Linked DNA regions of Homo sapiens: all the other regions are reported to be linked to region 1. Evidence: microRNA targets listed by miRTarBase, many of them from high-throughput screens and not tested one by one. Region 1 holds a microRNA gene; each other region holds the end of a gene's coding sequence.
The links. The annotated mature microRNA hsa-miR-3919 reads GCAGAGAACAAAGGACUCAGU and lies in region 1 at 1,479-1,499, opposite strand. An mRNA with a match to its seed (bases 2 to 7 or 8) in the 3' UTR can be bound and repressed. Matches are read on the target gene's strand: a 7mer-m8 pairs with bases 2 to 8, a 7mer-A1 pairs with bases 2 to 7 and ends in A, and an 8mer does both.

Region 2: miRTarBase lists EIF4H as a target of hsa-miR-3919. Seed matches in the 3' UTR shown: 7mer-m8 at 2,043-2,049.
Region 3: the mRNA of COPS8 is a reported target of hsa-miR-3919. Seed matches in the 3' UTR shown: 7mer-m8 at 872-878 and 7mer-m8 at 1,389-1,395.
Region 4: the mRNA of PDZD2 is a reported target of hsa-miR-3919. The part of its 3' UTR that is shown has no 7-base or 8-base seed match.
Region 5: miRTarBase lists CAPN13 as a target of hsa-miR-3919. The part of its 3' UTR that is shown has no 7-base or 8-base seed match.
Region 6: miRTarBase lists C5orf46 as a target of hsa-miR-3919. The part of its 3' UTR that is shown has no 7-base or 8-base seed match.
Region 7: miRTarBase lists CDC14B as a target of hsa-miR-3919. The part of its 3' UTR that is shown has no 7-base or 8-base seed match.

The regions. Positions count from the first base shown.
Region 1 is chr3:159,280,130-159,284,198 of GRCh38, reverse strand. MIR3919 (microRNA 3919) reads right to left here and starts at 1,553; the gene lies at 1,465-1,553. All of the region lies in intron 4 of IQCJ-SCHIP1 (IQCJ-SCHIP1 readthrough), which reads right to left. The region is part of intron 1 of SCHIP1 (schwannomin interacting protein 1); the gene reads right to left.
Region 2 is chr7:74,194,782-74,198,850 of GRCh38, reverse strand. It overlaps EIF4H (eukaryotic translation initiation factor 4H), which reads right to left. Exons shown (of 7, transcript NM_022170.2): 6 at 3,973-4,069; 7 at 1,755-3,682. The coding sequence ends at 3,543. Among named protein-coding and RNA genes, the nearest start is that of MIR590, 5.6 kb to the right of the region's middle. RefSeq lists an enhancer at 2,211-2,712.
Region 3 is chr2:237,097,189-237,101,257 of GRCh38, forward strand. COPS8 (COP9 signalosome subunit 8) reads left to right here. Exons shown (of 8, transcript NM_006710.5): 8 at 475-3,286. The coding sequence ends at 554. Among named protein-coding and RNA genes, the nearest start is that of COPS8, 13 kb to the left of the region's middle.
Region 4 is chr5:32,107,540-32,111,608 of GRCh38, reverse strand. It overlaps PDZD2 (PDZ domain containing 2), which reads right to left. Exons shown (of 25, transcript NM_178140.4): 25 at 677-3,640. The coding sequence ends at 3,474. LOC105374711 (a long non-coding RNA gene) reads left to right here and starts at 3,418. Exons shown (of 4, transcript XR_007058716.1): 1 at 3,418-4,069.
Region 5 is chr2:30,727,110-30,731,178 of GRCh38, reverse strand. CAPN13 (calpain 13) reads left to right here. Exons shown (of 23, transcript NM_144575.3): 22 at 393-449. The coding sequence ends at 419. Among named protein-coding and RNA genes, the nearest start is that of CAPN13, 78 kb to the left of the region's middle.
Region 6 is chr5:147,893,424-147,897,492 of GRCh38, reverse strand. C5orf46 (chromosome 5 open reading frame 46) reads left to right here. Exons shown (of 4, transcript NM_206966.3): 3 at 452-509. The coding sequence ends at 500. Among named protein-coding and RNA genes, the nearest start is that of C5orf46, 11 kb to the left of the region's middle.
Region 7 is chr9:96,500,013-96,504,081 of GRCh38, reverse strand. CDC14B (cell division cycle 14B) reads left to right here. Exons shown (of 14, transcript NM_033331.4): 14 at 293-3,969. The coding sequence ends at 329. Among named protein-coding and RNA genes, the nearest start is that of HABP4, 52 kb to the right of the region's middle.

The DNA.
Region 1 (4,069 bases):
TTTAAAGTATTTATAAGAAAAGACATTGTGGCTGTACGGTTTTATCAAGAATTTTTTTCAAACTTTCAAGGAACATGTAATTACCATGCTATATGAAATTAGAGACCAAAGGAAAATCTAGGAAGCTTTTCATTTTACGAAGCTTGCACAGCCCTGATTCAAACTTGAAAGAAATACAAACTACAGGTGAATTTCGTTTTTAAGCAGAGATGTAAAAACTTAAACAACATACCATAAAATAGAAATAAAAAGCAACATATAAAGAACTACCCGTTAAAACCAAACAGCAATACCACAATGCAAGAACAGACCATAACTCATCGCATCAACTATGGATAATAAGACAACCTATTTTGCTTAGGTTGAATTTTCTAATCAATACAATAAGACTTTTGGAAAGGAAGAGGCAATTTAGTATTATTTGCAGTTGAGAAAATTACATGGTTAACAACCTCGAAAGAATCCACTAAAAAAATTCTGAAGTACTATTAAGAGATTTTAATAAATTGAAAAGATACAAATCAATACAACAAAAAGCCATCGCTTCCTATATTATAGTAATAACCAATTAGAGGTGGAACAAAAGGAAGGAAATAGCCAGGCGCGGTGGCTCACGCCAAGATCGCGCGCCATTGCACTCCAGCCTGAGCAACAAGAGCGAAACTCCGTCTCAAAAAAAAAAAAAGGAAATAATCCATAATCCATGTACATAGGAACAATCATAGTAAGTAAAGTAAAAAATATGCCGGGCATGATGGTTCACGCCTGTAATCCCAGCAGTTTGGGAGGCCAAGGCGGGCGGCGGATCACCTGAGGTCAGGAGTTCGAGACCAGCCTGGCCAACATGGTGAAACCTCGTCTCTACTGAGAATACAAAAATTAGCCGGGCATGGTGGCATGGGCCTGTAATCCCAGCTACTCGGGAAGCTGAGGCAGGAGAATCACTTGAACCCAGGAGGCGGAGGTTGCAGTGAGCTGAGATCATACCACTGCATTCCAGCCTGAGCGACAGAGTGAGACTCCGTCTCAAAAAAAATAAAAAATATAAAACATATGAAATTTCAAATCTTTCCTGATATCTATATCTATTCGTGTTCTTATGCATATTTAGGTCCTTATCAATATTTATTTATCTACACAGCGTTCCTAGATGGTAAGAACAAATTTGCAAAGGTATCAGTTCTTATATTAGTTTACAGATTTGATGCAATTGCTATTAAAGTCTCTAAATAATTTCTTAACTATACAATTGTAGAGTTTATCTGGAATGAGTCTGACCATCCAAGAACATGAAAATATATGAAGTGGAGAATTCCCTGCTAGATATTAAAATTCATCATATAAATGTAATATTTAAGACAGTAAAATATAGGTACTAGAATAGACATGTGAAACCATGTCTATTCATGAAGGTAGTTCAGAAACAGATTCTAATGGATTTATTTTTAACATATGGTAAAGATTCCTGAGCACCATTTACTGAGTCCTTTGTTCTCTGCTACGAACTACTACAAACTAGTAGAGAACAAAGGACTCAGTAAATGGTGCTCAGGTAAAGGGTTAACTACTTGGAATAAAATAAGACTATTATTTCTCATTATGCCATACACCAAAATTTCAATGAACTTAAGACAAATGATAAAGTTGAAACCAGTTTTCAAAAAACACAAAAATATATAGGTGAATGGGATACTAAGTAGGTTTTATTTCCAAAAAAAAATTTAAAATTCTAAAGATTGAAATATGCAATCTAGGAAAATATATCTCACATATACGAATGCAAAAGCTTAATAATATATACGTAATATTTAACACATAAAATCTCAGTGAAACAATAGACAATTCACAGAATAAGTCAACATGGCCACAAAATGTGAAAATGTTAAGCCTCAACAACTAAAAAAGAAATTCAGGTTTTAAACACAGGCCACTTTCAATCTATTAAATTAACAGAACTAGCACAACAGTTCTAGGGATGTAACAATATATATCAATATCCTTAAAAATGTTATATAAATTTTTATTATACTTACAGTAATCTCTTGTAAGGAAACAAAAATATGAAAATATATGAACACTCAATGTTGACATTGATAACTATAGTGGCATAGTTCAATAAATTATATGTCTATGTGATTTCATATTACTCATTCACACTGTACCATAAAACTTTAAGAAATTTTAATGACACAGAAATTAAAATATTAAGTTTTTAAAAGCACAGTGAAAAATGTTGAAAATATGTTTAAGAGCTATATTTATATATATTCATACTAATACCTAGTGTATACACATTTCGGAATCTCCAAGGAAATTCACTGAAATGTTAACAATAGGGGTCTTTGTTGGATTAATGGTGAGATATATTTTTTAACATTTCATATTTTCTAAAATGAATATACACATTACAACGATAAATGAATAGGCATTGCTATAAAATGAGACAGAGAATATTACAATGTAGTTTAGAAACAATGCCATTCAAAATGTGTTGACTGAAAAAAAAGTAACCGTCCATTATTGATAGATTTCATTTATACAGAAGCCTCATTTCCTGTCAGTTTTTGATAAATTAGTGATCACTGTACTTTGCTCTAAAATGTAAATAGCTCCCTTCTTCCACTGACACAGCACAGATTTGTAGGTCTTCATGAAAATACAAAATGTACATACATTAAGAAGTGTAAGCACATTCATTCAAAACTATACTTTTTAGCTCTTGACACTGAAAATTTATCATCTTTTAATATATAAAGCATATTATTTTTTAAATATATGTGCATATGTGTTTTAGGCGCATATGTGGAATCCTATGTATTTGAAAATAATTCTTGTCCAAATAAAGTAAACCACTTAGAATATTTCGGTGTAATTATGATCACATAGCTTAAACATTAATTACAGGGAATGAATAAATGTTTCCCCAGATTCTAGCAGGTCTTCCTGCCTTTCTCTTCCTTCCAAAATCCCAAAATGAAGTTCCAAGAGGATGTATTTCTTTTTCCTAGCTTCTAATTAGCCCAGTCTTTGGTTTAGTTGGCAAGGGCGACTTTTGCATAAGCAATAGCTCTCTTTCAAAAAAGACTGATGTGGGAGATTGTGAAAGACCTATAAAGGTCCTGTGATCTTCAGTAGGGTCCATCCAAGCACCCAAACAGAAGCCTCCACAGCCACGATTGCCCCACATGTCACATAGGGAATGTATTTAACACATGCAATCGTGGATTACTCCCTTCCCATCATCCCTTTTCTACTGGCACAAGTCAGAGGTGCTGTTCCAAGTAGAAAATGTGGGTTTGCACAGCAATTTAGAGTGTGCATTGCTTTTTTGTCTGTTTGTGGGACACTGGAAGATAGGCCTGGCACAGTTCATCCTTCGCAAGTGCTTAATGCCATCCCTGGGGACAGGAATATCACAAGCCCAGAAAAACACAGCTTTTAGCCACTTGGTGTTGAAAATTTCAGGCAAAATTCCAAAAGCCCTCAAAGCTAATGTTGAATTGACAAAGTGCCAAAACCTCTCTGGCATTAAATTTCCACTCTTTATTTTCCCCCTTCAGGTTAACAGCTTGTGAAAATAATAATGTGATAATGCCACCCTGTGTTCCAAATATCTCGAAGCACGATCTTGTTAAGCTTTCGTGTCCCTTTGAGACTAACGGGAATTGAGCCGACTTATTCATTTTACAGATGAGAAAACCCTCCAGGAGATGAGTCAAATGTCTGAGCGATGGCCCTGCAACTTATCACATAGGTCCCAGGTCTAGATTAAATTCTCCAAACAAGGCCAAGTGTTCTAGGAAAGGACCTGAAAAGCTCAGCTAGCATCAAAAAGGGCCAGAGAAAGATTCATAGAGATTACTAGGCAGGCTAGTATAATAAACCAGTGAAAGTGGTGGAAACACACATTCCAGGAGGGGCAACAAGGCATAGTCTAGGCATAGCAATAAAGCATAGTCTAGGCATGTGGCCAACTGGAGTCAACAAGAATCACCATGGTCATCAGAAGATCTAATGTGACATCAGGGGCATTTTACAACATCAGGGACACTGGAGTTTGGCTTTTCTT
Region 2 (4,069 bases), not on the chromosome of region 1:
CTCTACTAAAAACACAAAAATTAGCTGGGCGTGGTGGCATGTGCCTATAATCCCTGCTACTAGGGAGGCTGAGGTGGGAGGATCGCTGGAACCCAAGAGGCGGAGGTTGCAGTGAGCTGAGATTACACCATTGCACTCCACCCTGGGTGGCAGAGCATGACTCTGTCTCAAAGAAAAATAAATACAAAATAAAATAAAATCTTAAAACATCCAGCCAGGCGCAGTGGCTCATGCCTGTAATCCCAGCACTTTGGGAGGCAGAGGCAGGTGGATTACCTGAGGTCAGGAGTTCGAGATCAGCCTGGGCAACACGGTGAAAACCTGTCTCTACTAAAAATGCAAAATTAGCCGCGCGTGGTGGCCCATGCCTATAATCACAGCTACTCAGGAGGCTGAGGCAGGAGAATCGCTTGAACCTGGGAGGTGGAGGATACAGTAAGCCGAGATCGTGCCATTGCATTCCAGCCTGGGCAACAAGAGTAAATCTCCATCTCACCAAAAAAAAAAAAAAAAAAAAAAAAAACAAAAACCAAAAAAACAAAACATCCAGATGTGGCCAGGGTCTGACTTCAGAGAAGCCCAGTGAGCCTGGCCCCAGTGACCAGCTCCCTGGGAAGTCTTCCTTCAGGTTTTAGGCCGTTTCACCACCCTAAAGGCAAGGTCAACCCGTGTTCTAGGTTAATCAGCTCTTCTTGTTCTAGACTTAATCTCTGTTAAGTAATGTCCTTCATTGAGAAAACCAGGCTATTCCCTAGAAATCACCAACTAAAAATAGATGTCAGGGCCAGGCATGGTGGCTTGTGCCTATAATCCCAGCAATTTGGGAGACTGAGGTGGGTGGATCACTTGAGGTCAGGAGTTTGAGACCAGCCTAGTCAACATGGTGAAACCCCATCTCTACTATACAAAAATTAGCTAGGCATGGTGGTGGGTGCCTGTAGTCCCTGATACTTGGGAGGCTGACAAGAGGATCATTTGAACCCGTGAGGCGGAGGCTGCAGTGAGCCGAGATCACGCCACTGCACTCCTGTCTGGGTGACAGAGGGAGACCCTGTCTCTGAAACACCGGTCCTCTCTACCACCTACTCTTGGGTAGAAAGTAGTTGAAGCAAAAGAGTTACTCTAGGCTCCCACCTGAACAGCCCTTGCCTGCCTTACTAAAATTTAGTCGTGGTCCGGGGTCCTCCATCACCAGACAATGCTCCTACCTCAAGGTAGGCAAGGTCTGCCTTGGCCAGGCCCTTCCAAAGTCAGCCAGGACTTTGCCAAACACGCATTCATGCCCCGCACCTTGCCCACTCAGCTCTTCTTTGTCTGCCTAAGTCAATTTTAACACTATCCAATACCAACCTATAGCAGCACCTCCCCAGAGTCAGGATCTGCTGTCAGGAAGCAGCAGCCCTCCCAGCCATGAGGGGCACCTAGAATTTCGTTTACAAGCAGTTGTTAAAAGAAGCCACATGTTGTGTAAATGCTTGATTTCTTCCATCTTGGGAAAAAAATGTTCCTTTACCTAACCAAAAACAGCCAGACTTTCAAGGTTTCTGCCTGGTTGGGAAAAGGACATTTTTAGCAAGTGAGGGGAAAAAATTGGCATCCTATTTCTAATCATCACCAGCTTTTAAAATAACTTCACTCATCCCAGAATTAAAATGACAGGAAGACTCTTCCATTTCAATGGTGCTTCCCAAATTTAAAATTGTTACATTCCATGAGCAGCTAAAAAGAACTCAAAAATAAAGGCAAGCATTAAATATTACGTAAGGTTTTCTTTTATTTAAAAGATCATTCACAAAATACCATATCCATAGATTTACTTTCTGTCATATAGCTGAATGTGTTAAGTGTTTGGAATTCCATTCTTACATTTAAAAGTCAACTGGATTGCCCAGCAGTTTAGATGCATGTGTTTTGTTCTTTATCTTATCCACATTGAAGATGTAAGTAGGTCATCTGAAAGCATCGGGTTTGATTACACCACATAATGCATGTCTTTCTGAAGTTAAGTGTTGGTGTTACACAAATGGTTCTTATCTCAGAAGCAGAGAAGCTGACAGGTGGAAGGAAGGAGAGAGAGTTCTGTGGATTGCTGAGGCCTTGTAACAAGACACAGTAGGAAAAGCCCAGGATGACGGCTGGTGACCAAATACTAAGCACATTCCGCTGGGTGCCCCAGGCCACCCTGGCCCTGCCATCACCTGGCGAGGGCCTCTTTCCCAGGCTCCTGCTGCCGGCCGCCCCCAAACTGCTCCCCATAGGACAGACTGGGACTTGGGTACTGAAGGATTTTTCATCTGTTCACACGCAGGCGTTCAAGCTCAAAAGCCTAACCCCTAGCACTCCCACATAACTGCTGAACCCTGCACATGGGAACAGTCCAGTGTGTCCCCAAGATGTGGCCGCAGACCTAGACAGCTGCAGTCCTCTACTGCTATCTGAAGGTTCCTGACAGCTCTGCATAGTACAATTTATCAAAGGAAATGAGTAAAGTGCCAGATTCTAGACCCATTTTGGCTCTGAACTGAAGGGGAGGTGGGAAGCACAGTATCTCATTATGTTGCCTATACTAGGAACAGATCCACACAACACACAGGCAACAGGGATGGGGGGAAACGCTGCGTCAGCGCCGCAGTCAGCCCAGTGCAGCACCAGCACCACCCCCTCCACCCCCAAAGCGCCTTGGCCCAGCAGAAAAGAAACCCGCTGGCCATTCACTGCACCCAGCCAGAGAGGCCAGCCTCCACCACGCACGGCGAAAGGAGTGAACTAGCTGGGACACACACACGTGTGAATGCATGCAAGCATTCACTGCATCTTCTCCGTGGACTCCCTACCGCTCTTCCATAGCCCCCCCTTTCAGCCTCACTGTTTCTCGTGTGAGCCTATCTGCTTGGACAGTCCACTCGGGAGGGGGTCATGGAGCCAGGACTCCCTCTAAATAGGAATGGAAAGGACCCTGCAGATATTTTTATCCTAGTTGTGAAAACAAGGTGCCTCTGATTCTCTATATCCATCACAGCTGAATACCAACAAGGTCTCTGCTGTTCCCTCTGTCAGTGACTCTGGTTTTTGTTGGAAGCCCCAGCAATACAGAACTCAACATGCAGGTCAGAAGAGAAGCACTGAGGGAATGAAAGGAAACGCCTGGAGTTGGGCCAGTGTCTAAAGTAAAGAGAAAGCAAAGGAAAAATGACGCAGCACCGCAGCCCAAACGCCCCCCCACGGCGGCCACCTCTGCTCCTCCGAGGAACCCCATGTGCTGCTGGGAAAACAAGGAGCAGGAGAAAAAGGACAGAAGGAAAATGGGGAAGCAGCGGAAGAAAGAAAAAAACGCACAAACAGGCACTAGATAGATACAGCAAAGCCCAGAATGTACTAAAAACCACTTGTTAACAGCTGACATGCACTCACAAGCTGTGTTTCCGCTGTGAGGAGGCCAATGGCAGGCGCAGGAGTGGCGGCTGCAGGACGGCTGCCCGGGGACTCACCAGGCTGTGGTCCTGCTCTAACCCCCCACGCCCCATTCCCTCCCAACCGCAGGCTCATTCTTGCTCCTTTTGAACGACTTCCTCTCTAGGCCTGGCACCCCCGAAGATAGCAGAGTTGGGATTGGCTACTTGATTGAGGGGCGTCGCGACTGTTCGAGGTTTAAGCTGGAGTCGTGGTCTCTGTGCTCTTTCCTCTGGGGGAGAAAAAGCAGAGTTTGTCAGAGTGTGGATCCCATTCCATATCCAGCAAAACGACCATGCTGATGTTGCTGTCAGCAAACCAGCCCACTTTCTAAAATTCACCTGGCCTGCTACCCCAACAGCAGATGCTCTAATGACCAAGGTGAACTTGCTATTCCAGAGAACGTGGGGATCTATGCCGACAACTCTGTGTGCCGTAGAACGCCAAGTCCCCACGGGGTGTGAACCGGCCATGATCATCCCATCAGGACAAGATGCCCTCCACTGACACATGAGCCCGTACCTTCTGTGGGTTCTCTGAAATCCATGTTGGATCCACGGAGGGGAGGGCCATCTCTGAAGCGGCTGCCCATGGGGGGGCCTGTTCGCCGGTCGCCTGG
Region 3 (4,069 bases), not on the chromosome of region 1:
GGAATGTAAATTCCTTGAGGTTCTTTGTGGGTTTTCTTTTTTTTTTTTTTTTTTTTGGTTTGTTGACAATTTAATATTCTTCAGTGATGTCTGGGGCATGGGAAGCACTCTATTTCTTGAATTTAATGTTGCATGGGTAAGGATGTTTTCAAGAAGAGCTGTGATCTTTTAAAAGACATGTTGCATGATAAAAGTGTCTTTAACCTTTACATAGAATACTTCAGTAACAACAACATGAGACATGCCTTTACTAGCAGTTAGGTAAAACCATACTCATAAAAGTTGCAACTTCTTGGCTTGCTTTTCAAAAATGTCCAAGCCTCTATGATGTAAGATTTTGTCTAAAACCAGGACAAATCTAAGAAAGTTAACTTACTGTTAAAAATTGAAGGCATTAGGGGAGGTAGGTGTTGGGGCCAAAGCTTTGTTACTGTGGTATGTAACATGAAGTGTGTTTGTTTCTTTAACATACAGAGCCTGCTCCAGTTCCCCCAATACCCAATGAACAGCAGTTAGCCAGACTGACGGATTATGTGGCTTTCCTTGAAAACTGATTTATCACTCTGAGTTCAAGATTCATCTTCAGAATCCTGTATACTGACAAACGTAGAAATGTAAAGTTTGTATTTTCAATTTATTGGATGGCTTAAGCACCTCAGCATTCCTTACTATGTGATAAAATACATATAGAATATAAGATATACTATATACATTTTGTCCATAAACGTTATGCTGAATAGTTGTTGAAACAGTTCTCATTTTGTAGTATTTAATAATCTGGATGGAGCCTGTCAGTATTACAGTTAGTTTTCTAGTGACTCATAAAATAAGATTTCCTGTTTCATGTAGAATAGTGTTTGTCAACTGTCTTTTCTCTGTCCCAGCACATGCCGTACTCTTATATGTACCATTGGTTGATAATTATAATGATTCATTTGGACTTGAAGAAAGATTGTCCCCAGGCACAGTATCTGAATCACTGGGGATTATGATTCACCCTCTTTGGAGAACATGCTCTCTTTTCACCCCCCACCTCCTGAGAGCCACTAATGTAAGATACAGAAACATAGCTGAGGAACAAATAGACCATTTCCATACTAAACCAGTTTGTTAACTTTAGATTTTTTCCAATAGTGTGAGTATATCCATTGCTGGCAGTGGAGGGCTTGCCATGAAAATGCAACTTATTTAAGACATTTATGAGACATATTAACTTGTGCTGTCGCCTTTTAGAAGGAGAAACTTAAGTGTGGAATGCATTATATGGGCAAAGAAGCTATGAAGATACATGATACACTTTGTACAACTATCCTGCAGCCCATTGGTTGCTTATATTTATCGCTTGGCTCAAGTTCTGCCCTTTGGAGAAATACTGAGCAAGTCTTTCATTCTCTGTGTGACAGCCCTCTGAATATTTGAAGTTGTTTGTTGTAACTTAAGGTTATAACAGCCCTTAGTTCATTTACTCTGCATTTGTTCAATAAATATTTAACTGAATTCTTCAATTATTTCATCTAAGATAGTTTCTGGAAATTTCACTCTCGATCTTTCTGTGGACACAATCTATTTTGTCATTGTGTCTATATGAATCTCTTAAGTAGAAATGAGTTGTATGGTGAATCTGTGTAGTGATAATTATATAATTTATTTATTTTGAATGCATTTTAGTGGCTATTTCAGTTTTTCTTAACATATATGGGAATACTTTTTGAATTGCAATTTTATTTAACCCGGATAGGTAAGTCATATTAAAATTCCTTGTTTTACAGTTGAGGAAATGGGAATTCAAGAAGTCAGAGGATCAGGAGAGTGATCAAGAGAATGACAGTGCCAGTTTTTTTAACTTCCAGGTATTAAGTACAAATTGTATCCATGGTTATTTTTTAAAAGCAGATTAGAGTCAATCCAAATATTCATTAATAGGGGATTGTTTGAATAAACAGCAGTGTAGACTACGCAGGTGTAAAAGGAGTGAAGATCTCTATACTAAACTGGAATGATCTCCAGAGTGAGAACATAGAAAGCACATGTAGTTTATATGGTTATTTTGAGGGTAACAAAAGGAGAATGATTACAATTATATATATGTACATATTTCCTTATATTTCAAAACTAAGCAATTGGGGGATATATACAAAATGAATATAATAGTTCCCTAAAGAGGAAGGAGAGGACAGTGAACTACTACATAGAGAAAAAATAATCTCAAGTGATCAAACACAATATTTCAATTTTACATTGTCAGTGGGATATACACTAAGGACAGAAAAAAATCTTAGACTAATGAATGTGGTTTTTCATGATTAATTTCACAAAATCTTGATATCTTTTTTATTATTAAAAGTATAGATTAAATTAATAATCATGTAACATTAGACCCCAGTAATCTTAAATTTGACATGGAAACCTCATTATATGCTTTATTTTTCTTTGTAAACAGTAAATATTTCCCACTCCTGTCTACATGAAAAGGTCTAGAGTAATTACAGTTCAGTAACAATGAGCACCACTAGTACCCAGATGGTGTTCTTTCATTTTCATTTGCAATTAAAAGGAATCAGAACTTATTTGCAAAACAGCTAATAGTTCCAGGGCAGTAAGTGTACAAGTTCATATCTGGTACAAGATGTCCAGGATTCAAGGAGGCTCTTAAAGACTTGGGATTCTGTCAAAGGGTTATACAAGCCAACTTGAAGGGATTTCTACAGGCCATGTAAAAATGAGACAGTTTGAGCATGAAATATTTGTATATGTGTCTGTTTTTAACTCTTAATAACCTCATCACTGTACAAGAAAGGCAGGGTAAGTGCTTGATTTCACTTCCCTTTATTATCAGTTCTCAGGACAAATTGATATGCTGCCAATCTCTAAAGCAACAAAATCGAACCTGTAGGGTAGTCAAAAAGCTCATGCTGGAAAATTCCACCGAATAAAGATAAAAGTTAGAAAAACGGTACTTGCAGCCCTTAATGAAACAAAGAAGGGATCATGGAAATATATATCAATGCTGTTGAGACCACAGGGTAAGAAATTGAGATTGAGCATGAAATATGTCCAGTACATCCATCAGCCTGTCTTTGTGCTCTGGCTATTTCTGAGCCAGCCATCTGTGTACAAGTGTAGCCTGACAGCACCCTGTTTCAGATCCATTGGATATCTCTAAAATTTGCTCTGGGACTTACCCTGGCACTACTATCAGGATGCCCACACAAACCTGATTGGGCAGCCCATCAGCAGTTGTGAACATGACATGGTGAATAAACACTCTCTTCCTTGTCTCAGGGCAGACTATTTCCAATGTGTTCTATACCTAGATCCTCAAAAAGAACCCCCAAAAAATTGAGCTGTGGTGTCCCATGGTCATAAGCTCTCTAATGCAGCCTTCAATTGTTTTTTCCTCATTCCTTGTTTTACTTTTCCTGGTTCCCTGTCTCTTGTTCCCGGAGATCAATAGAAGTGATCTGTCTACATATCTTTACATACCTATGCTATTCTGCCTTGGGGCGGGGATCGGGGACCTAGTCAAATCAAAGGGAAGTGTGTAACACATGAATCAGACTGAAAGCACCTGAATTTAATTTTATATATATAAGTATATATATATATGTGTATATATATATATATATATATATAATACGTATATGCATATATATAGTATATAAATATATACATATATACATGTACATATATATATATTTAAAGGTTTAGATCTGCTACTTTACATAAAATGTGAGAATTAATGGAACAAGTTAAACATCCCACTAAGAAACAGCCAGTTCCAGAATGTGGGAAATTTAACAGGATTAGTGAGTTTGCTTGAAAAATAAATGACAAAAAGTCAGGGGGTGGTAGTAAGTATGAAAATGTCTGTTCCTGGGTTGAAGTACCTTGAGGCCAACTCAGAATTGTGTCAATAACTAATAGGTGAATACCCACATTTATCCCTTGAGAGGCATCAGCCCCTAAATCAATGAGGAATGTGGAGCTAAGATTTGAGAGTACTGCAATGAGGTCATCTGCAGCAGCTCTTTGCAGGGTCGGTGGCAGGTGTTTGCTGATTCCACAGGGC
Region 4 (4,069 bases), not on the chromosome of region 1:
GCCAAGTAGATGCTTTTTATTGAGCTCTGTGAGGTAGGATCCCAGATCATCCAAGTAGGAGGGGGAAGGTGAATGGGTAGGGTTTTTGAGAAAAAGAACATTATTGTGAAAAATGAGAGGAAAAACTGACAAGGAAACAAGTGCTGAGTGGCAGCGAGGGTCCAGTTAAGGCTGGAAACTGTGAATTTACAGCAGCAGCGTTCTGTCTAGTTGTGGGATTTTCCTCTAGGAATACGGTTATAGGAACCAAGATGCTGGCTATTTGGAAGGGTCCAGAATCGCCTGGTAAGACACAACAGTGGGGCAAGGGATCTAAGCCTGTGGGCTGGGCAGAGTTTGCTGTGCTACGCTAGGGTTCTGGTCTGAGAAGGGAATGGAAGGGTGGAGTTCTGATAGGGAGAAAACTGTCAAGGGCTTTTTGAAAGTGAAGACGTGGGAGGAAGTGACCAGGAGGCTGGGAGCGTGTGGTAAAAGAGTAGGATGTTCAATTGTAAGAAAGATTTAGAGGTGGAAAAGTTTTGGATTGTGTCAAGATTGTGAGTGTGGCCTGGAAAAGGGTGGCTAATTTGAGTTCTATTGCCTTTGTACCTCTGATGCATTTAGGTGACAATAAACATTTCTCATCTCAATATTACTCTATTATTAACAAACAAACAGCCAAAAGAGAAAAAAAAAATCAAGTAGTAAGCAGAGTGTTTATTTTTTTTAAAATTACTTAAAAAAGGTTGTTTACAGAGATGTGGATTTATATAACTTGGTGACAACATTTTTAAAATGTACAGGCTATTTCATATTATTGCACTTACTCTTTAATATATAAGGCATTTTACTTTACATAAATAAAGGTTAATGTATAATATCATACAAAGTTATGGTGCCAATTAAGTCAACCATCAAATTCAATGAGATGTGTGGGAAGATGGAAATGAAACCCAGCCTACTTTAATCTTCATGGTATATTCTTGCAACTACGGTTTACTTGTTATAACACATATTTATTTACCCTCATAGCTTATTGTGAATGACTGACCAGTTAAAAAAAAAGAAACAATGACAGTTTTAGTAGGACAATACCATTAGTGTTCACTTCAGAAAGTGTGGGAATTTATTAGGCTAATTAGAAATACTAGTCATGCCTTGAACACTGAAGACAAATAAATAGCTTTCTATCTATCTTAGGGTCAAAGACAGTTTAGCTTTTGCTTCTTCCCTTAAATTTCAACTGTTTGTTGGCGAGGGAAACCTTCTGGCAAGATGTAGTAGCAGTGGCTGATGACTTTAGCATAGTGTATGTGGTAAGCCAGAGGTCTACCCTTGTACTCCAGATATGAGGATTAAAAAGACTTGCGGAAGGAGACCATTCCATTTGCTCCACATTGCACAAGAAATTCCTGTCTGTTCACATAGGGCTGTGCGTTTATTAATTAATTATTATTAGGCACAGCTGTAAGAGTGGAGGCGAAAAGCAGTTTTCAGTGTTGTTGACTTGAAATAGTCTTTGATTTAGGCAAGAAAGCAGAAACCACAAAACTGACCCCAGAGACTGAAAAACAATCAATCAATATCTATCAATCAAGCATGCACCTTGCACTGACTTCCTACAGTATTCTACCTGTAACTGTAGTGAAAAGTAGAAGTAAAATCAATAAGACCTTTCTAACTAACTCCTGTACCATATTTTCCTTTGTATTGCCAGTTGATGAGAAATCTGGACTCAGACAAGCCAGCTATTTCTCTCTCATCTGAAGGACCTCTCTAGGCCGACTTCAAAGATGTTTAGTGGGATTGGTCATTCAGAAAAATGATGATGTACAAAGCTGATGGCTAAAGCCCCTCCATGAATCTGGGGGTCACAGCCATAGACCCAAGCTGTAGGTTATTTAAAGAAGTATCTCCAACATAAAATCTTAGTGTCATGCACACAGGTATGGCAAATGCACTCTCCACTCATGTTGTCAGGGCTCAACGGGTTGGTTTGTGCCACTGAAGACGACCTGGCTTGTAACTACATTTCTGCTCCTTTACCTTGACTCACCCTGTTTCTCCTCCTCTTTATGACCCGATGAGAGTTTGGAATTATTTACCTAAGAAAATAAGGTACATCATGAGGAGAGAAAAGCCAGCTATGTGACGACGAACGGAATATCCAATCGGAATAGCTACTGGGAAGCAGCTCATGCCACCAGAGGAGGAGTGGCCAGAGTGAGTTTCCCAAGTAGCGTGAGTCACGACAGTCTTCTGTAGGAAAACATTTTTGGCAAAAGGAGGAAATTGCAAAGCGGGAAAACGAAAACAGCAAAAACTTAAGTCACTGCAGTTGTCATTATACTAGGTCAAGAAAAGAGATCCAATACTTAGAATGTTACATTTCTTAAACATGTTGGGAAAGAGGGAAAAAAACCAACCAGTCTCCTAAAAGGATTCCATTAAGCTCCTCTATTTGGATTGTACATACATTGTCTATAAATCCAAGGACACTTAGAAAGATACTTGATTTCTAAAAATTTAGTTTAAATTCATGGTTGGAGTGCATAAAATTCAGAAATGGAAACCCAGTGACTGACTGACTTGTGATATTTTTGTCTGCTCTTGGACTGACCAGTCTTGAATTCAAGCACTTATCAAGACAGGTTCAAAAACTAGTTGTAAGGTGCTTTTAGATGTTGACCTTTCTGCTCCCTCTAAGCAGTGAAGCTCATGGCTATTTAATACAGCTTATCAGAAGTGCTATTCTGTAAAACAGCCTTATGGCTTACACTTTTGAGATAGAAAATGATCAATACTTCATGGTGATCAATAACCTATTGAGTTGAACTTTGCATACGTACATTATACATTACACTCACTAAAAAATACTCTCAATTAATTATTTTGCTTTTTCCTTTTTGGACAATTCCTGAGCTCAGCCTAACAGGTCATAATTCATTTTTTTAAGTAAGTCTTATTCTCTTTTCAGGGTAACATATACAGACCTACATCTCCTCCTTCCATTGAATGTGCCTAAAAGCATTCTGTCATTTACTTACAAAATCATACAAAATGATTGATTGTCCTCTTAGGTGTGACATTTGTGTCCCCCTCAGACTTTTAGTTCCCTGATCACCAGGATTGGGTATGTTGGGAGAGCTGGCAAGAAGGAAGCAAAGGTCTAGCTAAATGTTTGTTTGTTTCAAATAAAGAAGGGTGTGTCACATCTTGTATCCCCATCAGTAAACATAACATAAAGGTAGGGGACAGGCACTGGAACGAAGGAACCCTCCCGGCCTGGGTGACGCAGGTGGAAGGCTTCTGGAGTTAATTTCATTGCTGTTGCACATACAGTTAAGTCAGGCTTCATGTGTAAGCACAAGCTTGGAGATTTTTATAGTCCGTGTCTGTACCAGTGTTGGCCATTTCAACAACCTGTGGTTTAAAGAAGTCACTCTGATTTGCTAAAGAAAGAAGAGAACTGAGAAAATGATTCTTGTTAAAATTCATGAAGAATTCCTATGCTTTCTAATTAATAACTGCACAGGTCCTTCTGGGACAGACTTCATAATATTCCAGGCATCAAAGTGCATGAGCCCAACCAGAGGTTTCCCATTAATAGCAAGAATTTCATCTCCAGCTTCTATTATTCCAGCTTGTTCAGCCGCACCACCTACGAGAATAAACACAGAATAATTAATAGCTTGGCAGTTTCATAGTATTCAAAAATCCTAAGTAAACTAAAAACTTTTAAGTGATAAAAATATCTAAATAATATATTATTGAATAGAGAAATATTTCTTAGAACACAAAAAGCATATATCCATAAAAGTAAACTGGTCTACAGAAAACAGTGCAACTCTAGCCCTCCTGCCGCCCCTCCAAACATAATCTGTAAGATAAAAATAAACTGACAAGGGGAAGATACTCTCTATGTATTTAATCAACAAATGGTTAACATCCAGACTAAAGAGCTACAAGTCAACAAGAATAACACAAAATAAAGTTGGGGTAAGGAAATCAACAGCTGAACTCCAAACAGCCAGTAAACACAGAAAAGCAGGTTCAACTTTTTTTGTTGTTGTTGAGACGGCCTCACACT
Region 5 (4,069 bases), not on the chromosome of region 1:
GCTGCTTTAGGATCTTGGCAGACAGATTTTATTTTTTTCCAATAGCTTAATAAAGCAGAGGATTATGTGGGAGTCATAAATCCAGGAGGGAACAGAAGGACAGCCCGCTGAGCTCACTGTACATTAAACTTATTCCCATTGAGTTTTAGAGGCTCCTGACCAGCCAGCTGGTAGACCTAAGATATATACGTCTCACTGCCTGGTTATTCAGGGAGTAGCAGAAGATGTGCTGTGAGACAACCCCGCCCCGTACCCTGCTTGGGTTGGAATTAGCTGGAAGGGGTGATGAGACTGGACTGAGGTCTTCCGAGGGAGGAGGGTGGCATTTGCCCTGCTCTGTATTAAGCTAACAAGTGTAAAGAATTGTTGTAATGATGATGCTTATTTTTCAGTGGATGAGCCTGGTCATGTACAACTGAAGCAAAGAGGAAAGCAGACCCATGGCTCAGGTAAGACATGGTAGCTTTGGAGTCTTTCCCTCCTGGGAGCATGAGTCCTCCTTCCCCTCTAAGAACTGCACATAAGACTCTCTCCTTGGGAGAGCCTCCCCAGGGATGACAGACCCTTACATAAGTGAACCAAGGCTTAGCTGCTCAAGGCCCTTGAGTTTCAAGGCCAATGCTGCAGATTTCATGCAGACAATGTAGACCAATGGACCTTTATGGAAAGGCATGGCTTGAAAGGCATGAATGAGGGTTTAGAATCCTTCACTGCAGTTCGAAAGAAAAAAAGTATCTCTCATCACGGGAAGGGCAAGAGAAATGGTGGAAATGGAATGGTGTAGAGCAACAGAAATGGTAGAAATGGTCAGGCCTTAGGGAGAGAAGAGCGGGCTCTAGCCCCAGCTGTACCATTGTCTCACTGTGCAGCTTTGGACAGATGATGAACATCTGTAGGCATCAGTGTTTATCCCTCTAGCATGAGTGTGCTGAAGAATTAACACTCACGTCATTTCCTCTACATTTTTTTTCATGAAACAGACCCTAGAGTTACATAGTCCACACCCTAACCCTGCTGTAGCAGAAGCCCCATCAGTCTTCTAGAATTCTTTAGGACAGGGGAGCTCAAGATGTTGTGGTTCCCATTGTTGGACATCTCCGAGTGTTAGGTATTCCTTAGCTAGAGGCAATCATCTACTTCCCTGAAACTTTCTACTCATGCTTCTGGCTCTACTCTCTGGACCACTGTAGAAAAAAATACTGGACATGCAAGACCTACAAATATTTGAGGATACCTTTGCTATTTTGCCCAAAGCCTGTCTTCTTTAATTATTCATGTTGGTTTTCATCCAGACCTCCTGGTGACCATTCTCTATGTGCCAATATACCTTCGAAGTATACAGTTCTTCACGCAGCCGACCTGTGATCAATATCACCTAAAACTCGATTGTTTTGGTAAACAGTATTTAATCTCCCATTCATGTACCTTGAAGTCAAGAGACAGACACTGTCTCCATAAATAATGTTGTAGCATAAATATTTCCTGATGAACGCTTGATGCTTTCTAATGATCGCAAATGAATACTGCAGAGATCATAGTTAATTTGACCCAATCATATTTCCTTGAGTTCTCCTTTCACTCCTTTTTAAAAACAGAACATTTGATTATTTTCAGTTTTATTGTGTCTGTTCCAATCTGCATGACTTCTAATATCAAAAATGATTCTTCAATTGTATATTTAAGCTAATTTGATACACAGGGCCTAAAGGCTTAAACTTTCAAAGTAACTGGATTCTCTCTTACTACCTTTTCTCCGTACAGGGTCGCGATTCCCTCTTAACTAATGTTTCCACCCTTCCTATTTTTAAACAATGTGTCAGAAGGAAGGATAATATTAGAGGCATTGTCGTGTTTACTTCAGTTTCTTTCACTAATGCCTATCATCAGCCACAGGAGCGCTTCCCTAGCTTCCTCATTAATCACCACCCTCTGGTATCACATCATTAAAGCACTTCCACTCACTCTTGGCTTGTGGTTTGCTTTACAGAATTGGAGGCAGGAGGGTGAAGAAGTTCTGCCTGCAAATCTACAAACCCACCTTCCTCTGTAACTATCTCCCCACTTCTTCCTCATTATCCTTCACCTTCTCAAGGGCCTGATTGAATGAATTCTCTCTTCTGTCTTCTGAATACTAAACCTGTCTCTGTCTTCTGGAGTCATTTAACTCCCATTTAAAAATGTGTATCTTTTAAATTTCTTCATCTCCTACCCCTTCCAGCTAAACTCCACCTGTTTCCTCTCATTGCAACCAAATTTCATGGAAGAGCTCATTGTCTACATATTCTCACTTCCCACTCTCCCTGCTAACTGCTTCAGTTGAGATTTCTTTGACATCATCTCTCTCCCTGACTTTGGCATGGCCTCCCTATCTGATTTTCCTATATCTACTCATATCCCTCAAATCAATTTCCGGCAGCTGGACTACACTTTTTAAAATTCAAATCCAATCATTACATTCTCCAGGCTTAAAAACGCTTCAATGTCCTCCCATTGCTCACAGGAAAAATCTGGCATCATTAACATGGACCACAGGAGCCTGTCTCCTCTGGACCCTGCCCACCATCTAACCACAACTTGTCCCTCTTTTTCCTGCTCTCTACTCCAACCACACCATTACACCTTTACTTCCTTCTATTTTCCATGCTTTTCCCAGCCTGAAGCCTTTGGCCTTACTGTCTGCTCTGTCTTGGCTGTCAGTCACCAAACTCCTGATCCTTTATGTCTTAGCCCAGTTGGGTTCCCATATTATGGGTTCCCATATTATTCACTCACATATCACCCCTCCCCAGTCATAACATTCAACACACTTGGTTGTAGCCCATCTTCTTTTAAAGAAATATATTGAGATATAATTCACACATTGTAGAGTTTGCTCATTTAAAGTATAGAGTTCAATGGTTTTTAGCGTAGTCAGAGGTGTGCAACAATCACCACAATATGATTGTTAGAACATTTTTATCACCACAAAAAAGAAACCCCATGCCCATCTAGCATGCCCACAGCAGTTGCTCCCCAATTGTGTCCCACCCTCTAGCCTGAGGCAACCACTAATCTACTTTCTGAATCTGTAAGTTTGCCTATTCTGGACATTTCATATGATTAGATTCATACAACATGTGGTCCTTTATGACTGGCTTCTTTCACTTAGCGTAATGCTGTCAGGATTCATCCATGTTGTAGCGTGTATCAGTACTTCATTCCTTTTAAGTGCCATATAATATTTCATTGTGGCTTTACCCCATTTTTTTCATCTATTCCTCAGTTGATAGACATGTGGGTTGTTTCTAGTTTTGACTGTCATTAATAATCCTGCTATGAATGTTTGTGCACAGGTTTTTGGGGGGACATATGTTTTTATTTCAATTGGGTGTATAGTTATGAGTGGAACTGCTGGATCATACGGAAATTCTATTTGTAAATTTTTGAGGAACCACCAAACTGTTTTCCAAAGCAGCTACACCATTTTACATTCCCACCAGCTGCAAATGAGAATTCCATTTTCTCCACATCCTCAGCAACCCTTGTCATTGTCTGTCTTTTATAGCAATCCTAGGGAGTGTGAAGTGATATCTCACTGTGGTTTTGATTTGCATTTTCATGATGACTAATGATTTTGAGCATCTTTTCAGTGCTTGTGGGTTATTTTATATCTTCGGCGAAATGTTCATTTAGTTCTTTGTCCATTTTTAAGCTGGGTTACTTATATTTTTACTACAGAGGAGTTATAGATGTTCTTTGTATATTGTAGATACGAATTCCTTATATATGTGATTTGCAAAATTTTTCTCCCCTTCTGCAGGTTGTCTTTGCAGTTTTTGATGCCATCATCTGTAGCATATGAGTCTTTAATTTTGATGGAGTCTAATTTATCTATTGTTTTCTTTTGTCACATATTTTTGGTGGTATAGCTGAGAAATCATTGCCCAACCCAAGGTCAAACTATTTATTCTGTTTTATAGTTTAGCTCTTACATTTAGGTCTTTGATCCATTTTGAGATCATTTTTTATATGGTGTGAAGTAACGTTCTAATTTCATTCTTTTGCATTCATTCATTTGTCCCAGCACCAG
Region 6 (4,069 bases), not on the chromosome of region 1:
AGCCAAATTTTTAAATTTTCTTTGTAACTTACCAGCCATGTGCTTTGGACAGGTTGTTTAATCTTTAAGCTTCAAAGGTTTTCTCACACATAAAAAGAGATAATAAAGATGCATTCAACAAATATTTATTAATTTCTACTATTTGCCATGCACTGTTCTAAGTGCTGGGGATATATTACTGGAAAAATATACCAAAATATATGACTTTATGGAGTTTATGTGTGAATAGATACCTAACTAATGGGTTTGTTGGCAGATGCAAAAAAGATAATTATGCATAAATTACTTGCCCACTATGAACTATGTAGAAATTTTAGGTCTTATTTCTTTCTGACATAGAAAAATCTAGAGAAGAACAGTGTGGCTCAAACATTATACAGCGCCTTAGTGATCATTCTAACACTCCTGTTCAGTCTCAATTGTAATTCTTATTTTCTCTTTTTTTCTCAAGAGGATTTATGGAATTTGATGATAATGAAGGAAAACATTCATCAAAGTGACATCCTCAGGTGATTTTTCACTTAAAATTTACAACTGAAATAACAGTGTATTGGACAAAGGAAAAAGAGTCTGTCCAGTTTTATTTAATAATTTTGGTTACCCATGTCTACCTACAAGCAGAAAAAGTACATTTTAAAAAAATAAATGAATATATTTTTTTCATGTACAAGTTTCTAATAATAAAATTTTCTTAAGAGAGGAGGTAGAGCTGTGAGATGAAGTGAATAAGGATGGCAAGTTTGGAGACCTGATTCCTGTCACAAATCTGCTAGGAACTTGCTTTGTACAAGTTCAGCCTGTGAAATGAGGGGCTAGCACGCACTAGCAATCTAAGGACCCACGTAATCATGCAGTTAGTTACTCATAAGAAGAGTGAAATTTGCTGAACCTAATTCAGAGAGAAAGGATAACAAACTTTCTATCTCACGCAGTTAGATATATGGGCAAACAATATAGTTTGAGTGCTCAGAAATACTTGCTTTTTCCCTACTCGGGTCTCTCCTGAAAATGCATATTGAAATACGAAAACAAAAGTGTTAGATCTGGAAAAGTAGTAATATTAGTAGCTGGTATGAACTGTGTTCTTACTCTGTTTTAGGCATTAAGCTAAGTGATTAATGACTAAGGGCTTGTAGTATTTAATTCATAATCACTATGCAAAATAGATATTATTATTCTTAAATTTTATAAATAAGGAAATGAAGGTTCAGGGAGGTTTGCTAATGTGGCTATATTGATAAAGGATGAAGACACAATTTGAATTTAAGCAGCCTGATTCCAAGGCCTGTGCTGTATCTCTAAGCCATAGTGCTACTGGAAACAGAGCAGAATAGTATAGGAGAAGGCAGTGGAGAATAATGATTAAGCTAAGTAATCTAAGTCATACCTCAAGATGTTCATAGAAATACAACACCACCCCTTTGCTTAGTTGAGTTACTTTATCTGCATATTCAGGAAGCATGGCCTTTCCCAACTTCTGTTTGTGATCTGGTCTGGAAATGCTCCTTTTCCCCATTGGCTCCATTTCATAACCTGGGTGTGATTAATGTAAGTTCAGAAAGCTACTATCATATTCCCCCGGAACTTAGCCCACCCTTTCCCATGTGCTTCTAAGGATGAGAATCAGGCTTGGGCATTGAAATCAAAACATGCCCAACCCCGACACTCCTGACTCTTACCCTAAGGCCAATTAAGCTTTTAAACTCAGTCACTTATGTTTGTATGTCTTCATTCCCATCTTCTCAGAGAACAGCCTGCCTCTTCTTGCAGGTGTCCTAATACTTTGCCTTCATTCCGGCTTCTGGTACACACCTATAATTTTTGGTACCCACACCCCAAATCCTTGGAGTACATCCTACAGGTCTGGTCTATGATGTAGTCTAATAGGCAAGGCCACATGGAGGAGCAGAAAGAACAGAAGACATAGACAAGATGTAAATTCAACTTCTAAATCAGCCACTTAATGGTTATGTAACCGTGGTCAGGCCACTTTACCTGCCTGAGCCCCACTTTTCTCCTTATGAATTTTTAAAACATAGGGAATCTTAATGCCATAAATTTTTTAACTGCACATGAAAAACTTGGAATTGATGCATGAACCAACCTAAGATGCCCTGATGAGCAGGGAGGAATGGCTCAATCTAGGGTTGTAATATAAAAAACATTAAACTAGGGAGAAGGAAGCAACTAAGGGAGAGACTAATTTTTGTATTCTTAGTAGAGACAGGGTTTCACCATGCTGCCCAGGCTGGTGTTGAACTCCTGGCCTCAAGTGATCTAAGTGATCACTTGGATGCCCACCTCAGCCTCCTAAACTGTTCCGATTATAGGCATGAGACATGGCATGCAGCCAGAATTTCCTAAATTAAGATAGGTAGTTGGATAGATAGATCTTATGTTTCTCTTATTAACATTGATTTTTTTTTTTTTGAGACAGAGTCTCACTCTGTCACCCAGGTTGGAGTGCAGTGGTGCCATCTCGGCTCACTGCAACCTCTGCCTCCTGGGTTCAAGTGATTCTCCTGACTCAGCCTCCCGAGTAGCTGGGACTACAGGTGTGCATCACCACACCCGGCTAATTTTTGTATTTTCCTTTAGTAGAAATGAGGTTTCACCATGTTGGCCATGATGGTCTTGAACTCCTGACAGTGATTCACCCCCCTTCGGCCTCCCAAAATGCTGGAATTACAGGTGTGAGCCACCATTCCCGGCCGATCCCTCCCTTTTTTTTTTTTTTACACATTTCTTTAATGCTTCTTTAATCCATACCTACTATATCAATCAGCCAATGCTACCAAAATGAATAACTAGCTGGCTGTTGAGAAGTTTATGGACTCAGCAATCACATAGCTCTGTGTATCTCATAACTGTGGAAGGAAATGATAAAGTTATGCATAAAGGGGCCTTGGGAATGCCTTGGAAAAGATAAGAAGGAATATCTGGAGGAGGGGATAAGCATTATGAATGCTCTACAAATAAGGTGAACTCTGAGAGAAGAGATTCTACACACAACCTGATATGATGAGTAGAGAGAGGTACAGTATTTGGAAAAATATCCAATAACCGAATACCTGGTTCATCTGAGAACCTCTCAGCCTCTACTGAACAACATTGGCATGATTTTTACTGGCTTTAATATTTTCAATAAAATTAAAATTTTAACTCCATTTGTCCTGCATTGTTTAAAACCATATGAATTCAAGTCATCTTTTTTTGTGTCTTAAGTCATTTGATATTTTAAGTATAAATTTTCTTTCCTGCTTAAAAACAAATTTGGACAAACCTCACTAGATTACTAAAATTATCAAAAGAGGTAATGGATAGAAAGTCACTTTATGAATTCTTAATTTTTATACAAGTGTTTTGGATTAAGGCAAAATGTACTATAGGACACACTAGACTTTTATGCTTAGACTTGCTCAGTCAGAACTTCCTAGGGAGGGATCTAGGAATAAGTAAGTCAGACAGGAAATTCCAGTGCACCTGATAAGCAAAATTGCCCGTGGCCACAATGTCACTTGATTACGTTTTCATGAAGTCTTATGGAAAATTTTTCTTTTAGAAATCAGGCAAAAAAAAAAAAAATATGCCTTCCCTAAAGTCAGATTCCTCTTTTCTGCTTATAAGATTTATGTGATGGCTGGGCATAGTGCCTCATGCCATTACAGGTGCCTACCAAATCCCAGCGCTTTGGGAGGCCGAGCGGGCAGATCACCTGAGGTCGGGAGGTGGAAACCAGCCTGACCAACATGGAGAAACACTGTCTCTACTAAAAATACAAAATTAGCCGGGCATGGTGGCACATGCCAGTAATCCCAGCTACTCATGAGGCTGAGGCAGGAGAATCGCTTGAACCAGGGAGGCAGAGGTTGTGGTAAACCAAGATCAAGCCACTGCACTCCAGCCAGGGCAACAAGAGCGAAACTGTGGCTCGTAATCCCAGCACTTTGGGAGGCTGAGGCAGGCAAATCATGAGATCAGGAGATCGAGACCATTCTGGCTAAAACTGTGAAACCCTGTCTCTACTAAAAATACAAAAAATTAGCCAGGTGTGGTAGCGGGTGCCTGT
Region 7 (4,069 bases), not on the chromosome of region 1:
GCTGCCCCTGCCCGTCCGTCTTTTATGATTTTTATTTACTCGTATTGGTTTTTTTAAATTTCTATTTTTTGCAGAACTGAGCCTTTTTCTGCCCTGCCTTTCTCCTGTTTGTCTTTCCTTTGTGGTTGATATTGTGTTGTCTTCTCCAAAGTATTTGTCATTAGAAACTTACAGCAAGCGTATACTTTTTAGCATGTCAGTATTTTTATTATGTTGCCCTCCTTGTCTTTGATAACTGCCTGTGGACGCTGTGTAAACTTTCTGGTAAAAATCCTTTTTTTTCCCCCTGTAGTCTCTCCATTTCAAGGACTAAAACAGTCTTGCGTTAAGTAAAAACCTGTGACCAGAGCTGAAGGAAGACTCTAGGACTGAAAACTGCAACAGAAATTAGCACAATTTGAAAACAAAACAAAATTGCAAAAGCCTTAGTTGCTTTTTCCACCTAAGAAGTTGATCAATGGAGAAAATGTCCACTGGAGTTTGAATAATGAACTTTGAGTTTGGGTGCAAGCAAATGACTCAGAGAAGGGTCCAGCTCTCAAGCTGAATGACAAACATGCTGTTGTAAATTTAGTCTCAGGTGTAAATACCCAAGCCCTCTGGTACCCAGGGAGCTGGCTGGTCTGTGGTGCATGTGTGTCCCTGTGATGGCAATCATTGTAGTTGCTGGCCTTCAGAAGAATTGAGGATCTGATGGAGGTTTTTTATGTATTTATTTTCTGTTCACCTTGTGACCCTGTGTCAAAATTTATAAAGATACAAAAGGCATTACTGAAATGGTACTTTCTGTAATTTGATACTATTTGGCTTAATCATCTTCACTTGACTATTTGTAATACTGTTGTAATGTTAACTCTGTTAAGTACCCAAGCTGCTTGTCTTCCACCAAAGAGTGCTTTATTAACAAGAATCTGTGAAAATCACATTTAAACACTGTTGCATGTTGTAAGACCAGGTGGTACCTTAGTAACCTAAAACTTGCAAGAGAATATTAATGGTAGCTTTAGAAGACTCAGGAGGAGAAACTGACTTCAGAGTTGGAAGATGTTGCAAGTCGTTCCTTTTTCTGTCCTTCAGGGACTGAAGAACTGGGAGGCTGCCCATTGTTTGGTTGCCAGTCATACAAATTAAAATCATATTTCCTTCCATGAATGGAAGAAACACACTATTGGTTTTTCCCCTTGGAAACAGCAATCCCAAATAATGTCGGCTTACAAAAAAAAAAAGTTACCACTTTTTTAGAGTCCTTCCCTGTAACATTGGATTTTTTTTTTCCCTTATGAGATCCACCTAAGGCCATTGACGTGGCCTGCGATCTCAGTGACAATGATCTGCTTCTGGATCTCACTGTTGCCTTTGGTTAGGGAACACAACTAGTAACTCTGCAGAGTGCCTTCTCCCGCAGCCCTACTGGAACACAGCAGAGTCTGTGCCATGAAGCAGTTACAGAAACAGAATTGATGTGCTGCTAAAAAAAAAAAAAAAAATGGGGCCCGAAATAAAAGAATATATAGTACTCACCTCAGTTCCTTCCATAAGAAGTGGGTGGTTTAATGATTGTTAAGCCATTTTTGCCTGTGCCGGGAGCATGGAGGGCTGAGATGTCGACAGGCAGTGGGAAACAAATGCCCTCCTAAGCCACAAGGCGTGCGCCAGATTAGTAGGCAACTCCATTTTAAGAAGCTGCCTTTTTCACAAAACTGGAAGAAATAAAAGCGGTTGGAATAAACAAGTTAAAAGTCTTTAATGCAAAAAGTAATTGAAAGGCAGTGCCTCCATTTTGGTGTACTTTCTTGGAAGAAAGTATAAAATTGACCGGCATCATGAGAGACGGAAGATGCCGTGTTCTCAGCCAAACAAGCAACTCTTTCCCCGCCAGGCACTGTCGGGTGGGGTCAGGCCAGCTTTTAAACACTGGGGACTGGATCACAGAAAAACAGTGGTTTTCTGTCCCTGGAAATGAATAGGCACAAAGACCCACTTGGCTGTGGGCAGACTACTCTTCAATAAGATTTGGGTGGGAGGAGGAACATTCCTTTTGCTATTTTGAGCTGAGACAATATAAATATTCAAACTGTGCCATGCATAAAGCATTGAATTCTCAGGGCACCTCTTCTTCCCCTTACCCCTTTTAAGGCCATCCCCTCCATTAATAATAATCCAGGTAGTTGTGAAAATCGTGCTTCTATCTGATCCCTTCTTAGTTTGGCTTTTCATCCCATCAGAACAAGTAAACGTAGGCGCCACAGCTCTTGTGAGTACTGTCTCCCTCACGGTGAATGAGCCTCCTGGTGTTTCGTCCAAGAAAAGAAAGGGTGTCACTGGAACCACAGCCCTTTTTCATTTTATAAACTGCCTCTTCATGTTGCCTGCTCAAGTTTCCACCTAGAATTGCTATCACTGTGGCTCTTTCTAAAAATCTTTCTATTTAACTGGTTCACTGAAATTAGTCATAGAAAACTTGTGATTTGGTGAAGAGGCATTCCTTGTAATAACCAAATGACTTGGGATGGTGTGCATAGCAAGGGCAGTGTTACACTTATGAGGACTGTCTCTAGCATCCAGGAAGTCTCTGGGTCTGAGGGATGGAAAGTTCTTCCTGCTATGAATGAGAGTGGACTCTTCCCCTCACCCCCAACTGAAACCACAAACAACCAGAATCTTCTGGAATTCTGACTTAGAGTCGTTGTTATAGAAGACCTTGTTGCTATGGAACATGAAACTGTGTGTCAGATGGAGAGATCCCCTTAACCTAAGAGCCTTAAATAGCCCTGAAAGTACACTGGGACGGTTTGCGATGGAATTAAAATTGGAAGTGAATATTTTTAGGTGCTCTTGAAGCTTTCTGGGGACTCAAAATTATCAAAAGTCAGGGACAGTCCGGAGGAAGAGCGTCTGCAAAACTGGGTTCCTAGAAGTATAGACGGACTTAGCTTTTTGTAGAATTTGGTGAGGAGCAGCGCCTCGTGAGAGCAGAATGGCCTGGCGTGGCCAGTGCTTCCCGGCAGCACGCAGCTCTGCGGCCTCCAGAATTCCCCTGTTCTGAGCTTGATGCCCCTAGCCTGTCCCCTACCTACTTCCTCCCCTCCTCTCTAGCCCTCTCACAGGGGTGATTGCTACCTCTCTGTTTTCTTGGGCCTAGGCAAGTTTTAGAGGAGTTCCCAAGCATTGTTATGAGGCCAGTGTGCTCGCTGGGCTGGGCGGGATGGCCTGGGCTTGTGTGTGGCCTGAGGGCTCTCCTGGGGCCTTCTCTTTTCCCAGTCACCTTTGGAGCCACAGAAGCAGTGCACTCATTGGATGTCTGTTCTTAACACAGCTTCTCTTTCTACATTAAAAAAAATCATTATTGCATTTTGGAAAGCAGTGCTCATCAAAAGCAACTTTTAAAACCTATTTTATTGTTCCTTTAAATGTTCTCTCCCGCTGAAACTGCCCTGGAGAGGCTATCTGCTGCTCTTCCATTTACCCACATCAGGTTATTCTCCATGTCACTCAGTGGAGATGACTCCAGATGTGTTTAAAGACTGGACAATTCACCTATACTGTGTAGGAAATTACCTCCTTAATTACCTGGTAGAATTGTCAGCAGACATGTTCATCCGATGATAGTACTGCAGTTTTCTATTAATAATTTGCAGACTTTTATCTAACCTGCACTCATGTACAGATTATTAAAAGTTTTAAAATGTAACTGATCAGTATTGATCAATCATTGTCTTGATTTTTTTTTACAGCGTATATTTCTAATCATATTTTTTAAAGCCAAGAGAACTGGTTGAATGAATGTTTATTTTCCTGAAGGTATTTTTAAGATAAAGCTTCCTAATGGCGTGTAAACTTTGCATATGTATGTAGTTTGATACATATTGTCACATTTGAAAATCTTGTGGGTTGTAACTGGTTTTATACAAAATATCGAATAGTGGAAATTGTATAATTACAATCATGTAATTAAAAGTATTAACCCAACAGCCTTTTTGTTTATTGTGTTACTTACCAAGCATTTTGAATTCTGGTAGGCAGTGGGTTAGATCATAAAGCAGAGGTAACCCGGAATCTGTGTAAGTTT